Regions from separate parts of the Homo sapiens genome. Here region 1 is linked to region 2. Evidence: fine-mapped expression QTL. A gene starts in region 2. The other region holds a variant in brackets. All regions are shown on one strand. Distances are from middle to middle.

Region 1 (8,335 bases), 120 kb after region 2:
AATGATAGAATGAATAATACCTCTATTTGATAGTATAACAGGGTGACTATAGTCAATAATTACTTAATTGTACATTTTAAAATTACTTAAACAGTATAATTAGATTGTTTGTAACTCAAAGAATAAATGCTTGAGGGGATGGATACCCCATTCTCCTTGATGTACTTATTTTACATTGCATGCCTGTATCAGAACATCTCACTTATCCCATAAATATATACACCTACTATGTAACTACAATAATTAAAAATGTAAAAAATCTTTAGATTGGGAAAACAAACTATAATGTCTACTGATGGATGTCCTACATACTGGAAATGTAGTGAAAATGGTGATGGTGATGTAGAATGAGGAACTGGTGCTTGTGAAGCAGGTTCACTGTGCACTGCTTACCACTTCAGAATCCTGGGCTGCACTTTTACTATGTACCTGAGTCTTGTGAGATAAAAAAACTCTCTCACACACAAATTGCATAGTTTTGTTACTTATAGATGGGCAGAAAGGGACAACAGAAGCCTACGAGTTATGATGAGCCAGTCCCCGGGGGCTCAGGAAATCTGCTCAGAGCAGATGGAGTCTCCTCTGAGAGTGCCTTATTGCTCCCAGGGTAAAAAACCCAGGGTGGGCTGCTTTCCAGGGTCCCTTGTACCACAGCTGAGGGACCCTGGAAACCAGCCCACCCTCAATTTTTCACCGTGGGAACAATAAGACACGCTGGCTGAAGCGATGAAGGATATACTGTTTCTAGGGGCAACAGGGACAGAGTCTGTGCTCTTCTGGCCACCTCCTCCTTATCTCAGGATGTTGCATGTCCAGCACATTCTAGTTAATTCTGCAGAACTACAAGTAAGAAATGGGGGAGAACTGGGTTGGTTCAACACCACCCATGGAACTGTCCTGCAGTAATGTCATGTATGGAAAATTATACGGGAATATGAAAAATCAGTAGAAAGAAAGAAAAAAAGATATTATTAGCACATAGAATAAACTCTAGACAGGTCAAAATCAAATAGAAAATTAGTAAATTGGAAGATAATATTTAGAAATGGGCTCAGAATGTAGCTGAGATAAACAAAAAGTGATTTAAAAATATGAAGGATTCATTAAAAGAAATGAAGGATAGCTGCAAAGACTGCAACATACATACTTATAGACACTCTATGAAACCCTACAAGTTCCAGGAGATGCAAATAAAGGAAATAAAGAAGCAATATTCAAAGAGATCATTTCTGAGGAATTTTCAAAGTTTGAGAAAGATGTGACTTCTTAGATTGAAAGTGTACCCCAAAAAGCATGTAGGACCGTTAAAGGTAACTCCATACCTAGTCACAAATTTGTGAAACTAGAGAACATGAAGAATAAAGAGAAAAGTCTTAAAATCTTCCAGAAAGAAAAAGAGAAAAGATTACCTAAAAGGCCTGACAATGAGAATGTGAGCAGACTTCTCACTACTAATAGTATGTGCCAGAAGATATTTGTTAATTATCTTCAAATTGCTGCGGTAAAATTACTGTCGACTAGAATTTTATATCTAGCTAACCTATCACAAGAGTGAGGGTAAAATATAGACGTTCACAGACATAGAAATAAGAGAACTTAACTAAAGCATATTCCGTAAAGAGAGGAGGAACGAAATTAAAAAAAATGATAAACACAGGAAGTGGCAAAATATGTTGATGAATTTTACTAACTTAAAAAGAAGATTGAGGGAGGCTGGCCAGGATTGCCAACTAGAAGCAGCTAGTGTGCTCTGCTCTCAGAAAGAGAAATAGAAGGGGCAAGTAAATACAGCACCTTCAATTGAAACATCCAGGTACACACATTGGGACTCATCAGGAAAACAGCTAAACCCATTGGGAACAGAGAGAAGCAAGGCAGGATTACTGCCCACCTGAGAGTGACAGGGAGCCAGGGCAGCCTCCCTCTTTCAGGGAAGTGGTGAGTGAGTGAGTGACCCCAGGGACCCATGCTTCTCCCATGGATCTTTGCAACCCTTGGGTCAAGAGAGCTCCTTGTGAACCTCTCCACCAGGGACTTCAGTCTGACACACAGAGCTACGTGAAGTCTTGGCAGAGCAGCTGCTCAGGTACATATGGAACCTGGGGAGACTTAGATACCTGGGCATCCAAGCAAAAGTGGTTGCAAGTCCAGCAAATCAGAAGGTTAGACCCCTATACATACCCATAAGAAAAGGGATGAATCCAGGGGCCTGAGAAGTGACAGTTTGCAGGCCCTGCTTCTACAGCACTTGGCAGGACAAGACCCACTGGCTTGGATCCTATTTCTCTTCACTGGCCAGAATCTATTGACTGAGGTCTGCAACCACCCCCACCAGTGTTTTCCAGGAGACATCAGTTCCAAACCTCCCTGGAATGGAGCTTCCAGAGGGAGGGGCAGGCCACAATCTTTGCTGTTTTGCAGCCTTAGCCATTGTTGCCTTCAGGCTTTGGAGAGCTCAAAGTGACTGGGGGCTGAAGCAGACCCCTAGTACAGCACAGCTGCCCTATGAAAAAGTGGCCAGGCTGCTTTTATGCAGTAGGTCCCTGATCCTGTTCTTCCTCACTGGGTGGGACCTCCTGACCAGGGTCTCCTGCCATCTCTGCCAGTGTGTTTGGGCTGGAAACCCATCCATACCTCCCTGGGATGGAGCTTCCAGAGAAAGGGGCAGGCTGACATCTTTGCTGCTTTGCAGACTTCACTGTTGATACCTTCAGGTAATAATAGAAAATCCAAGGTGACTAGGGACTGGAGCGGAACCCCAGCATACTGCAGCAGCCATATGGGAAAATGGCCAGACTGTTTTCCGTACATGTCCTGGTGCTTACTTCTCTTCACTGGGCAGAGCTGCTTGACCTGAGACACCACCACAGCCACCCTGCCATTGCCTGACCACTTCAATCAGAGGCAGCCCAGCATTTCTGTAAGGAGAAAATCCTAAAGTCAACCCACAGCCCCTCTGCCACTGCAGTTGCAGTGGTACTGCCCTAATAGCCTACAGGCTGGGGAAAGAATAAAGGCCTAGTCACTCACTCCCTGGTACCTCCAGCACACCACAGCCACCATATGGAGAGGAGTCCAGCCCCTCTGCCCTAGGAATCTTCCCCCTACACTCTTCACCAGTCAGGGCCTCCACCTCATAACTGCAGAAACATCCCACCCATGGTGGAGTATACCCACTAGTAGTGGCTTGGAGTTTTCTTGTGAAGAGGCTTCCAGAGGCATCCCACAGCCATTCTGCCACTGCCAAAGCAGCAGTTCTATCCCTGCTGCCCTTGGTCTGGGGAAGAGACAAAGAGCCTGAGGACTATACCTCAGGTTACAGAACACCACATCCACCATATGGGGAGACCAGTATCTCCTCCCAGTGAGCCCTTGACCCCCTACTCCCCAACAACAGAGTTCTAAGCTCATACCACTAGTGCTGCTGTCCCACCCCACTGGCTGAACACTCCCAGTAACAGCAGCTCTGCATTTCTTGGAGGTGGGGCCCTCAGAGGCAACCCAAAGTCCCCCTGCCATGGCCTCTGCAGTGGTACTACCCCTTCTACCCTTGGACTAACAAAGGAGCAAAAGCCCTAAGTACCTTATCCATACTTCAACAAGCAGCAGTTGACCCAAGGAGAGGAGGCCAGTTCATCTTGCATGAGTCCCACCCACCCCACTGCTCATCACTAAGCAGGGAACCCCCAGCTTGGGTCCACAGCACAGACCCCTAACTTGGGCTGATTACACTGAGAGATAGCTGACCTGTATCTCTCTAGAGCAAAGCCCCCAGGAGACAAGTAAAAGACCCTCATCACAACCACTGTGAAGGTCCTGTCCTCTGCTGCCTCCAAGTTGGGGAGGAAACATTAACCTTGAGATTACCCCAGAACTGTGTTGGGCAGCCTGGGAATGCCAAGCTGTGATCTACAGCCAGCACTGAAGTGGGAGAGGAGCTCACACTTTCAGAGCATAGAGAGGCAGCATGGCTACAGCTGTGAGGAAATATAGGAGAGCCACAAGACTGAGCAAGAGACTCTTACTGACCATTATGCCTAAGTGCCACCCACTGGATCACATCCCAAAACTTCAACACCTAAAGTATCTCACCAACTTTGTGAAACCAAAGACAAGAAGCTACAAATAATTACCCTGCACAAAGCCTTGGTCCTGTGAAAACATCCAGAAAAGAAGTCAAGAAGTCTATTGATTTTACTCAATCTTCACTGCAGTTAAAGGAACACCCACATGCAGAGATGAGAAGGAACCAACACAAGAACTCTGGTAACTCAAAAGGCCAGTGTCTTATGTCCTCCAAATGACTGCACTAGTTCTCAAAGAAGGGTTCTTAACCAACTCATTGGCTGAAATGGCAGA[C/A]ATAGATGGATAGGAATGAAGATCATTGAAATTCAGGAGAACAGCAAAAGCCAATCCAAGGAAACTAAGAATCACCATAAAATGATACCTGTGCTGACAGATGAAATAGCCAGTATAAGAAAGTATCTAACTGGTCTGATAGAGCTGAAAGAGACACTACAATAATTTCATAATGCAATCACAAGTATTAACAGCAGAATAGATGAAGCTGAGAACAGGATCCTGGAACTTGAAGACTAGCTCTCTGAAGTAAGATAGTGAGATGAAAATAAACAAGAATGAAGAGGAATGAACAAAAACTTTCAGAAATGTGGGATTATATAAAGAGGCCAAATCTACAAATCACTGGTATCCTTGACAGGGATGATGAGACAGCAAACAACTTGGAAAATATATTTCAGGATATCATCCATGTAAACTTCCCCAACCTCACTAAAGGGGCCAAAAATAAAATTCAGGAAACACAGAGAACCCCTGCAGGATTCTACACCAGAAGGTCATCCCCAAGACACATAATCATCAGATTTTTCAAAGTTGAAGTGAAAGAATGTTAAAGGCAGCTACAGAGAAAGGGCAGTTCACCTACAAAGGAAACCACATCAGACTAACAGTTGACCTCTCAGTGGAAACCTTACAAGACAGAAGAGATTGGGGGCCTATATTCAACATTCTTAAAGAAAAAAATGTTCAACCAAGAATGTCATATTCAGCCAAACTAAGCTTTCTCGGCGAAGGAGAAATAAGATCCTTTTCAGATGAGCAAGTGCTGAGGGAGTTCATTACCATAGAGTTTTGTATTGTTACTAGCCAATACAAAAACACACTTAAGTACACAGACCAGTGACACTATAAAGCAACCACACAAACAAACCAGCATAATAACCAGCTAACAACACAATTACAATATCAAATCTATACATATTAATACTAACCTTGAATGTAAATGGGCTAAATGCCCCATTTAAAAGGCAAAAAATAGCAATGTGGATAAAAAAGCGAGACCTGATAGTATGCTATCTTCAAGAGATCCATCTCACATGCAGTTACACCCATAGGCTCAAAATAAAGGGATGAAGGAAAATCTACTGAGCAAATGGAAGTCTGAAAAAAGCAGGGGCTGCAATCCTGATTTTAGACAAAACAGACTTTAAACCATTAAAGATAAACATTGACAAAGAAGGGCATTATATTAATATAATGGTAAAGAGTTAAGTTCAACAAGAATACCTAACTATCCTAAAAATATATCCTGTGTTCCCAACACAGGAGCACCAAGATTCATACAGCAAGTTCTTAGAGACCTCCAAAAAGACATAGTCTTGCACACAATAAAAGCGGAAGACTTCAGCACTCCACTGACAGTATTAGACCAATCATTGAGGCAGAAATTTAACGAAGATTTTCAAGAACTAAACTCAGCACTGGATCAATGGACCTGATAGACACCTACAGAACTCTCCACCCCAAAACAACAGAATATACCTTCTTATTGCTACATGGCACATACACTAAAATCAACTACATAAACAGACATAAAAGAATTCTCAGCAAATACAAATGGACTGAAATCATAACAACCACTCAGTTGGACTGCAGTACATTAAGATTAGAAATCCAGAGTAAGAAAATTACTCAAAACCACAAAATTACATGGAAATTGAATAACCTGCTCCTGAATGACTTTTGGGTTAATCATGAAATTAAAACAGAAATCAAAAAGTTATTTGAAACTAATAAGACCCACAATACAACATACCAGAATCTCTAGGACACAGCTAAGGTAATGTTAAGAGGGAAATTTATTGCACTAAATGCCCACAACAGAAAGTAAGAAAGATAGCAAATTAACAACCTAACATCACATTGAAAAGAACTAGCAAAGCAAGAGCAAACCAACTACAAAGCTAGCAGAAGGCAAGAAATAACCAAAATTGGAGCTGAAATAACCAATTGAAGGCAAGAAATAACCAAAATTGGAAACTGAGCAGAAAACCATTCAAAAGATCAACAAATCCAGGAGTTGGTTTTTTGGAAAAAAGAAAAAAGATAAATAGGCCACTATTTATCTTATTATTGTAATAAGACTAATAAAGAAGAAAAGAGAGAGGATCCAGATAAACACAATTGGAAATGACAAAGGGAATATTAACACTGACTCCACATAAATACAAATGACCATCAGAGACTGCTACAAACACGTTTATGCACACAAACTAGAAAACCCAGAGGAGAAGGATAAATTCCTGGGCACATACACTCTCTCAAGACTGAACTAGAAGAAATTAAAACCCTGAACAGACCAATGATGATATTCAAATTGAATCAGTAATAAATAGGCTACCAACCATAAAAAACCCAGGACCAGATGAATTCACAGCCAAATTCTACCAGATGTACAAAGAAGAGCTGGTACCGTTCCTACTGAAATTATTCCAAAAAATTGAGGGGAGGGACTCCTCAATTCATTCTATGAGGCCAGCATCATCCTGATACCAAAACCTGTCAAAGACACAACAAAAAATAAAACTTCAGACCAATATCCTTGACAAATATTGTTTGTCAAAAAAATACTGGCAAATCAAATGCAGAAGCACATCAAAAAGCTAATTCACCATGTCCAAGTAGGCTCTATCCCTGGGATGCAATGTTGGTTCAACATATGCAAATCACCAAACGTGGTTCATCACATAAACAGAACTAAAGACAAAAATCAAATGATTATCTCAATAGATGCAGAAAAGGCTTTCTATAAAATTCAATATCTCTTCATGTTAAAAACCCTCAATAAATTAGGCAGTGGAGGAACAGACCTCAACATAATAAAAGCCATTTATGACAAACCCACAGCCAAAATCATAGTGAATGAGCAAAAGCTGGAAGCATTCCCTTTGAAAACCTGCACTAGACAAGGATGCTCTCTTACTTTTCCTATTTAACATAGTATTGGAAGTCCTGGCCAGAACAATCAGCAAGAGAAAGAAATAAAGGACATCCATATAGGAAGAGAGGAAGTCAAATTACCATTGTTTGCAGACTACATGATTTTATACCTAGAAAACCCAATAGTCTTGGCCCAAAAGCTTATTAAGATAATAAACAACTTCAGCAAAGTTTCAGGATACAAAATCAATGTACCAAAATCACTAACAGTCCTATACATCAGCAGCAGCCAAGTGAAGAGCCAAGTCAGGAACACAATCCCATTCACAATAGCCACAAAAGGAATAAATAACCTGGGAATACAGCTATCCCGAAAGGTGAAAGATGTCTGCAATGAGAAGTACAAAACAATTCTGAAAGAAATCAGAGATGACACAAACAAATGAAAAAACATTCCATGTTCATAAATCAGAAGAATCAGTATAATTAAAATGACCATACCACCCAATTTACAGATTCAATGTTAATTGTACCAAACTTTTAAACACATTCTTCATAGAACTAGAAAAAATTATTTTAAAATTCATATGGAACCAAAAAGGAGCCCAAATAGCCAAGACAATCCTAAGCAAAAAGAGCAAAACTGAATGCTTCATGCTACCAGATTTCAAACTATACTACAGGGCTAGAGTAATCAAAACAGCATGGTACTGGTACAAAAACATACACATAGAGCTATAGAACAGAATAGAGAATCCAAAAATAAGGTCAAACACCTACAACCATCTGATCTTTGACAAAGTCAGCAGAAACAAGCAGTGTGGAAAGGAATCTCTGTTCAATAAATGGTGCTGGGATAACTGGCTAGCCACATGCAGAAGATTGAAACTGGACCCCTTCCTTACACCATATACAAAAATTAACTCAAGATGGATCAAAGGCCTAAATGTAAAACCCAGAAATATAGAAACCTTGGAAGACAACCTGGACAATACGATTCTGGACACAGGAACTGGCAAATATTTCATGATAAAGATGCCAAAAGCAATCTCAACATAAGGGAGGAGACCACCCCACATATTGTCTTATGCCCAAT
Region 2 (8,335 bases):
TGACAGCTGTTTTCAATACTCTCAAAATACTGCTCTTCTGTAATGAGACTATATATCATTTCTGAGTTTGAGTTACTAAACTCCAAATAATAAGAGAAAAATTGGTTGTTTCAACACTTTTCCTACTAAGAGTATGCTAGTGCTTTCATAAATGTCAAACCATACCCTGCCATTATACTTAAGGTACTGTTATACTTAAGGTGCCGATATTAGCTTAAGTGGGGTACATAATGTAACAGAAATTGATATAAATCAGGAGAACAAGGTAACCTGTCTTATAACTCTGGAGTCATATATCTAAACTGACACAATTTCAGAAAGCTGTGTAACCCTGTTTGCCCTCTGTAGCGAATATATCATGATGCAGAGAAACTGAAGTAGAGAAGTTTCTCAGAGTCAATGGTTATCAGTGATGTCATGTACTAAATATGAGGTATTCATTCCTTCATCTGCCTGGGGTCAGGAGTAGGGACCTATTTATTTATTTGTTTATTTTTATAACTTAAGACAACAGAAGCACAAAAGTAAAAAAATAAAAAAGCAGAGCAGAAGTAAACAACCATGGCATCAGTCCACATAATTCAATATGTCAAGAGTTAGTAGGCAAACAACAAAGATAGTAACTTATAACTTACTAAGGCAGCTGCTTGGCCAATCCCCTGAGCAGCGGCCGTCAGGATGATGACTTTCCCATCAAGTCGACCCATAATGGAACCTGTGGTTTAATCTAAAGACATGTGTGTTTAATGGGTTATACTGTAGAACATGATCTTGAGCAGGCAGTAACATCTAGAATGAATAGTTCAGTGTGCTCTTTTAAGAATAATTTAGTGAGCTCCTTCAGGAACTTGAAGACAGCACCTCTGTGCAAGTAGTCCCATCATCTGAATTCTCCTAGAATGCTTACTCTGCATACCTAGCTTTGTATATCAAACACATTTACCATAACCCACTGAAGTAATGACTGGTGACAGACATTGGCCATTTTTTTTTTTTTTTTTTTTTTTTATGAGATGGAGTTTCACTCTTGTCACCCAGGCTGGAGTGTAATGGAGTGATCTCGGCTCACTGCAACCTCCGCCTTTTAGGTTCAAGCAATTCTCCTGCCGCAGCCTCCTGAGTAGCTGGGATTACAGGTGCCTGCCACCACGCCCAGCCAATTTCTGTATTTTTTGTAGAGACGGGCTTTCACCATGTTGGCCAGACTGGTCTCAAACTCCTGACCTCAGGCAATCCACCTGCCTCAGCCTTCCAAAGTGCTGAGATTACAGGCCTGAGCCACTGTGCCCAGCCCAGATATTGCACTTTAACCTACCTTATCCTTCCTTCAGTACCTGGAGAGGACAGCCTCTGGTGCTGAGTTTCCTCACTACCACCATCACTCTCTCCATGACCCCTGCACACATTGCTATGACATTATTTGTGTCCTTACTACTCAGGGCTGCTTCTTGATTTCTCTTCCATAAACTTTTGTTGAGGTTTGCACTATCAATTGCTTATGATTTTTTTTCTCTTGAAAAGATTTCATAGTTGGTCTCAGATATTCATCGAAAAAAAAAAGGATGGAAAAATCAAATCACATCCAATACTCCCATTTTACAGATGAGGAAACTGCTGAAACATGCCCAATGTCATAGAGCCAGTCAATGGGAAAGCCAGAACTAAACTTAGACTTCCAGACTCTTGCTATGTGAACAGTCCAGCCCACAATGCTGCCGATCCTCTTATAAAGTTTAAGCATGCAGTAGTAACACATTAACAGGCATAATCAGTAATTTCTAAATGATTGAGAAACACTGACACCGGGGCTCATGTGCATGAGATATTTCACCAGTGCTTGGATTATAGATCACAAAGTGAGAGAAAGAGCTAGTAGTGAGGCTGGGGGTGGAGAAGAGCCAAATGACCATCAAATGAGGCTGTCTTCAAGGACACAGGCTCCAAGTCTTGCTGGGCTCTGTCATTAATGTGTGCCTCTGACCTCATACGAACTCACAAAGTGGCTGCTTTGTCCAAGGCATCATATCCACATTTCAGGCAAAAAGAAAGGGAGGAGCAAAAGCCAAAAGGCTTTCAGAGAGGTCTCACCTTTCTATTTAAGAAGGAAACCTTCTCAGAAATTCCCACCTGCAGTTCATTCACCAGATCTATGCTACTTGGCCACTCCTAGCTGCAAAGAGGTTGGAAGTTGAGACTTTTGTTTCCAGCTTTGATAAAGTGAAGAATAGGAGAAAGTGAGTTGGATGGTGTTGATGAACCAACTTACAGTACATGCAAACTAGCCTACACAATCACTCTGTTCCATTATCTGCCTGATTTTGTACAGGTTGATAGCCTTGCCTAAAGGGCTTATATTACCTAGTCCTTTCTCTTTGAACTTATTTCAGTTCTCTCTTTAGCCAAACTTTTTTTTTTTTATACCCAATATGCTCTTCCATTTCAAACCTCCACACTTGGTCCAAGGTCCACATGGTGAAGGGCAAGTTACTCCTATAGGCAACAGCCACTGAAGGATTTATGGAAAGGGTGTGAAATGATCAGATTCGTATTTTGGAAGGACTGCTGTGGAGAACATACCTGGGCAGGAGCATGGGGTGCCATTAGGAGGCTGCTAGGGTTATCTAGTGGGGGCGCTGGTGAAATAGCAGGGCTGGAGAAAATAGCAGGGATGGAGAGATAGGTGGATTGGAGAAGTGTTTCAGAGATGAGATAGGTAGGACCTGATCACCAACGTGGCTAATTTCAAAGAAATGTTATTTGCCCAGTGTTTTGCAGCTATGAATTCAAACCTAGGCCTTCTTGTTGCAGGTCCAAGGGAAGATCTCATGGCATTGTCTCATGGTACTCAAAGCCCTGCGGGCCTCTCTAAATCCCCACTGTGGCACCAGGAGCCTGTGCCTCGCAGACCGCTGACCCCAGGAAGTAATGGACAATGAGGCGCAGCTGCTGCTGCCTCTCTGGGTTTGTGCTGAGGCCACCTTCTCGGGGCCGTTACAAGCCAGTGCCTGAGCATGCATGCTTACTAAGGCAGACTCATTTCTGGGAGACATAGACCTCCTCCCCAACGGATGACTGGCTAGAGAAGCTCCTTATTACCTTGCTGAAGTTCTCTTAGACTGCACAGCTGTCTGGGATGCTTCCACTCAACCTGGTTTCCTTCTTTTCCTCCCTCGCGGGTGGACTTGCATCGAGGTCTGATGGCTCTCACAGCCTTACCTAGTTCTCTCCTCATTCTCTCTCACAACAGCATTTCCCCTAATAAAATCCATGCATATTTAATTCTATCTTGGAGTCTGCTTCTTGGAGGAGCAGACTAACACAATTATGTAAGAACTGGCTCCAGGGATCAGCTTATAATCACTGACTTCCTCTGAGTTTGTCCACATTTTTTAGGCGATGGGGAAGCTTGGCTTTAACAGTGCCTGACCTACTTTGATGCAATGAATTTTTGCTTTTTTACTTCTTACACAAAAGATAAACATGGAATGTTTATCATTTCAACATGGAATGACAGTTTCTAAAGTATAACTTTAGAAAGATATACTTTATCCTCCTTGAATCCTAAGCATGGTGCACAAAAGCTATTTTACAACACTGTCATTAGTGATATTGGGTGTATGGCCCTGTAAAGCCTCCAGTCAAAGGTTTTGCTAGGAATCTTTGCCAACCGAAGAAGCACTTCCAGAACAAATGCCGAAGCACAGAGCAGCCTTTCTATGCACTCTGAAAACCTCCTCTTAGCTGGCCTTCCTGTCTTTCTGGGACCAGATTTTGGGGTCAAAGCCTTAACATTTGATAAACTGTAATCTCAAACTAAAACAGATTTCTTTGAGAAAATGAGAGCAAACACGGCCTGAAATGGTAAAACAAGGCACCTCTCAATATATCCAATGTGAAAACCATACATGTTGGCTTCCTTAGTCCAAAAGTTAGAATCAAAATGTTGATTTTTGATTAGCAGAGACACAAACAGCATATTCAGGAAGCCATTGTTTTCAAGAGCCAGGAAGAAAACTCTTCACTTAGGATACCGTAAGAATCCTTTTTTCTTGGGCTACTTTATAAAACATACATACCACAGAGTTTCAGGCTCTTTAAAAACCCATCTTTACACTGATCTAACTGCTCAGATTAATTTTGAAACAGGCAACGTGCAGAAAAAAACAACATCTAAAAATTAAACCTCCCCTCTTTCCGTTCTAAAGTTTCATTTCAAAAGTATTAGGAAATCTTACTTTAAGCAGCGAGCTGATGGCGTTCTCCAGAACTCGGTTTGAGCAACAAACTTGAGACAACCTTTGTCTGGAAGCAAGTCAAGCGCTTAATAATGCATGCTGGGATTTGTAGTTTCCCTGCTTTCAGAGTTTAGTGGCTCCATCCATACACTTTATAAATGTATGTGCTGCCATCTAGTGGAATTCAGGTAGAACTATGAATTCCAAGTGGAAGGTGAAAAGTGGAAAAGCACCTTAGAGCTTACTTAGGATGCGGAAATCATTTCCTTCACTTCAGTCTCTCCACTTCTCTGTTTTGTTTATGCCTACTATATGCGGTGCCAGGGTAGACGAGATTGGCTGAGCTGGAAACTGCGTGTGGAAGATAGCAGAGCAACAAAATAGAGGGAACCCAGGTCACTGAAAATTCTGGAGCCTTCCTGTCACTTGGCCTGGATTGTTTTAAGGGAGAGAAATAAAAAAAAAAATCCTTTTTGTTTGAGATACAGTTGTGATTTTTATTTTTTCATGCTCAGAATATTCTAACACTAATGCACATTTAGTGGCAGAATGCCAGGAGCCTTTTACTACACTGGGAATGGGGTTGGGGAGAACGTGAAACTTGGATGACAGGGTGGAGGCTTAAAAGGGAACATGTTAACAGCGAAAAACCCCAGTTTGGCTGAAGAGAACAGAGATATAAGGTCAAAAAGAAAGGACTAGATCTCATGAGCCCTCTAGGTTAGGATAGCAACATGTGCTTTATCTGTAGTGCCAGTGAGCAGAGTGATTGTGTAGGCTACTTGTACATGTACTGTATAAATTGGTTTCCTCAGCACCCATCCAACTCACTTTCCCCTTTTTTCACTTGTCAAAGCTGGAAAACAAAAGTCTCTACTTCATAGCCTTGTTTGCTGCTAGGGGTGGCCAAGCAGCATAGATGTTGCCAATGAAATGCAGGTGGGAATTTCTGAGGAGGGCCTCCTTCTTAAATAGAAAAGTAAGCCCTTCTGAAAGGCTTTTAGCTTTTGCTCCTCCCTTTCTTTTTGCCTGGAATGAAGATAGGATGCCGTGGGACAGAGCAGCCATTTAGTGAGTTCATCTGAGGCCAGAGGCACACATTAACGACAGGGACCAGCAAGAGAAGGAGCCTGCGGCCCTGATGACAGCCTCAAGGCAACAACTCCTCTGGACTTCTTATGTGAGGACAATAAACTTTAGTGTTTTTCACGTTTTTTGTTACATGGAGCTAAGTGATTTCTAACAGTCACAGGGGATAAGAACAAAGACTGTGGCGTCAGTAAGACTAGAGCAAGTCCCATATCTCTCTCTCACTAGCTAAGTGAGTAAATCACTTAAATCTCTGAACCTCTTATGTTTCTCATCTGTAAAATGAAGGTAAAATAGCACCTACCTCAGGGATGTGGTGAGGAGGAACGACTAAGCCTGTGAATCCATCAGCACAATGTTTGCCACACAGGTGCTTAATACATGTTAGTGATTCTTATGATGAAGACATTGTTGGAGAAATTTAATTATAATGGATGGTAAAAGTTGCGCTTTTTAATGTTCTTTTAAAAACTGGACTTAGTTTCTGCATGTGTCTATATGAGGTCTATGGTAAAATTGTCCCTCCTTGTTCATTGTTTCAGCAACTTCTAATGCTGGCTCTAACAATCTGTAATCACATCTAGCTTTGTTCCTGCTTTACTAATAATGCCCTTTGACTTTTGAGGCTTTTGGAACAGACTTTATGAGAGTTCTCTAATCAAAGCCAACTCCAATGCTTCTTGATGTAGCTTTCTTCAGCATCCCTCTGTAATCTTCAGCAACAATGCTTACTTGATAACAGCCTAAGTCACATGGTATTGCAAATACTTGCTTACCCATTAGTATTCTCAGCAGACTAAATTTCTTCAAGGGTGGGGACTATGTTTTACACCTTTACATTGTGATTAGCTCGTATTAAAAGAGTATTAGTTACTTGTTTTCTTATCTACAATATGAGTTCCACATTGGTAGTGCCTTTCAGTGCCTAAAACAGTAATTGGCAGATAGTAGATGCTCATTAAATATTTGCTGAGTGAATGGCAGTTTCTTAATAAGTTTCCTGAATATAATTCTGCCAGGCTCTCAAGACAATGTTTGTGATAATTAATTTTAGGTGTCAACTTGACTGGATTTACGGATCCCCAGAGAGCTGGTAAGCATTATTTCTGGGACATCTCTGAGTGTTTCTGGAAGAGATCGGCATTGGAATCAGTGAACTGGGTAAGGATCTACTTCACCCAATGTGGGCAGGCACTATCCAATTGGCTGAGGGCCCAGATAAAACAAAAAGGCAGAGAAAAGGTGAATTCTCTCTCTTCCGGAACTGGGACATCCATCTTCTCCTGCCCTTGGATACCTGAACTCCGACCAGATTCTCAGGCCTTCAGACTTGGACTGAGCCACGCTCCTAGTTTCCCTGGCTCTCCAGCTTGCAGACAGCCTATGGTGGGACTTCTCAGCCTCCCTAATTGTGTAAACCAATTCCCCTAATAAACATCCTCTCTCTCTCTCTCTGCATATATATATATATATATTTTTTTTTTTTTCCTCAAGCTTCAGTGGGGTTACATCCCAATAAGCCCATTGTAAATTGAAAACATTGTCAGTTGAAAATGTATTTAATATACCTAATTCACTGAACATAGAGCTTAGCCGAGCCTACTTAAATGTGCTCAGAACACTTGTTAGCCTACAGTTGGATAAAATCATTTAATACAAAGCCTGTTTTATAACAAGGTGTTGACTGACTCATGGGATTTATTGAACAGAGTACACTGAACAGTGTCAGTTGTTTACTCGTGATCCCGTGGCTGACTGAGAGCTGTGTCTTGCCGCCACTGCCCATGATCACAGTAGAGTATTGCTATCTTATGAAGAGATCAGAATTCAAAGTAAAGTTTTCACTGAATGCGTATCGCTCTCACACCATCCCTAAAGTTGAAAAATCTCAAGTTGAACCATGACAAGTTGGTGACCATCTGTGTATATTCTATTGGTTCTGTCTCTCTGGAAAATCCTAAGACAGATTTTGGTAACAGGAGAGGTTCTAGAGGAACAAAATTTTAAGGATGAGTTTCCTGAGTTGGTTTTGGGGTTCCTGGAATTGGCTCTTAGTCTGATTAGATTTGAAAATGCTAAAGGCTCTACTCTTTGAGATGGGGTCACACTCTTGAACAGGTTGGAGTGCAGTGGCACCATCATAGCTGACTGTAGCCTTGAATACCTGGGCTCAGGCCATCCTCCTGCCTCAGCCCTCCAAATTGTTTTTTTTTGGTAGAGATGAGGTCTCAGTATGTAGCCTAGGCTGGTCTCAAACTCCTGGTCTCAAGTGCTCCTCCTGCCTCAGTTTCCCAAAGTGTTGAGATTACAGGGATGAGTCACTGCGCCCAGCCTGGCTCTCCTTTTAATAGTACAGAGAGCACTGATTGTCCAAGAAATGAACTGTTCATAGAGGTATGCAAAATGTCTGCATTGGATACTCCTAATCAACCACTTCTTAGAGGTGAGGAACTTAAGTGACTCTATATATAATACTTTTTTTTTTTTTTCCGAGACAGAGTCTTGCTCTGTCGCCCAGGCTGGAGTGCAGTGGCATGATCTCGGCTCACTGCAACCTCTGCCTCCTGGGTTCAAGCGATTCTTCTGCCTCAGCCTCTCGAATAGCTGGGATTACAGGCACACACCACCATGCCTGGCTAATTTTTGTATTCTAGTAGAGACGGGGTTTCACCATGTTGGCCACGCTGGTCTCAAACTCTTGACCTTGTGATCCGCCTGCCTCAGCCTCCCTAAGTGCTGGGATTACAGGTGTGAGCCACTGTGCCCGGCCCTATAATACTTTCAAATATTTATGGAAAACTAAGAAATATACCAATGTTGGTTGGTTGCTTCTAATATTGTTGGGCAAAATTATTTAAAAAAAAAAAGGATGACTTCAGGGATTCAAATTCATGGCTCAAGCTCCACATAAGTAACCTAAGAGCTTATAGGCGTGCCCTGAAAGAGGATCTTCTCTCCTGTAGACATGAGGCTAAAATTGCTGAAAATCAAACACCAGTCTTCATCATTTG

What was found.
Region 1: its variant is fine-mapped to the expression of BDH2 in minor salivary gland (GTEx, PIP 0.94).

Annotation. Positions count from the first base shown.
Region 1 is chr4:103,215,332-103,223,666 of GRCh38, forward strand. No RefSeq gene overlaps it. Among named protein-coding and RNA genes, the nearest start is that of CENPE, 21 kb to the left of the region's middle. The variant C/A (reference allele first, on the strand shown) is at 4,360.
Region 2 is chr4:103,095,548-103,103,882 of GRCh38, forward strand. It overlaps BDH2 (3-hydroxybutyrate dehydrogenase 2), which reads right to left and starts at 4,287. Exons shown (of 10, transcript NM_020139.4): 1 at 4,236-4,287; 2 at 636-727. The coding sequence starts at 707.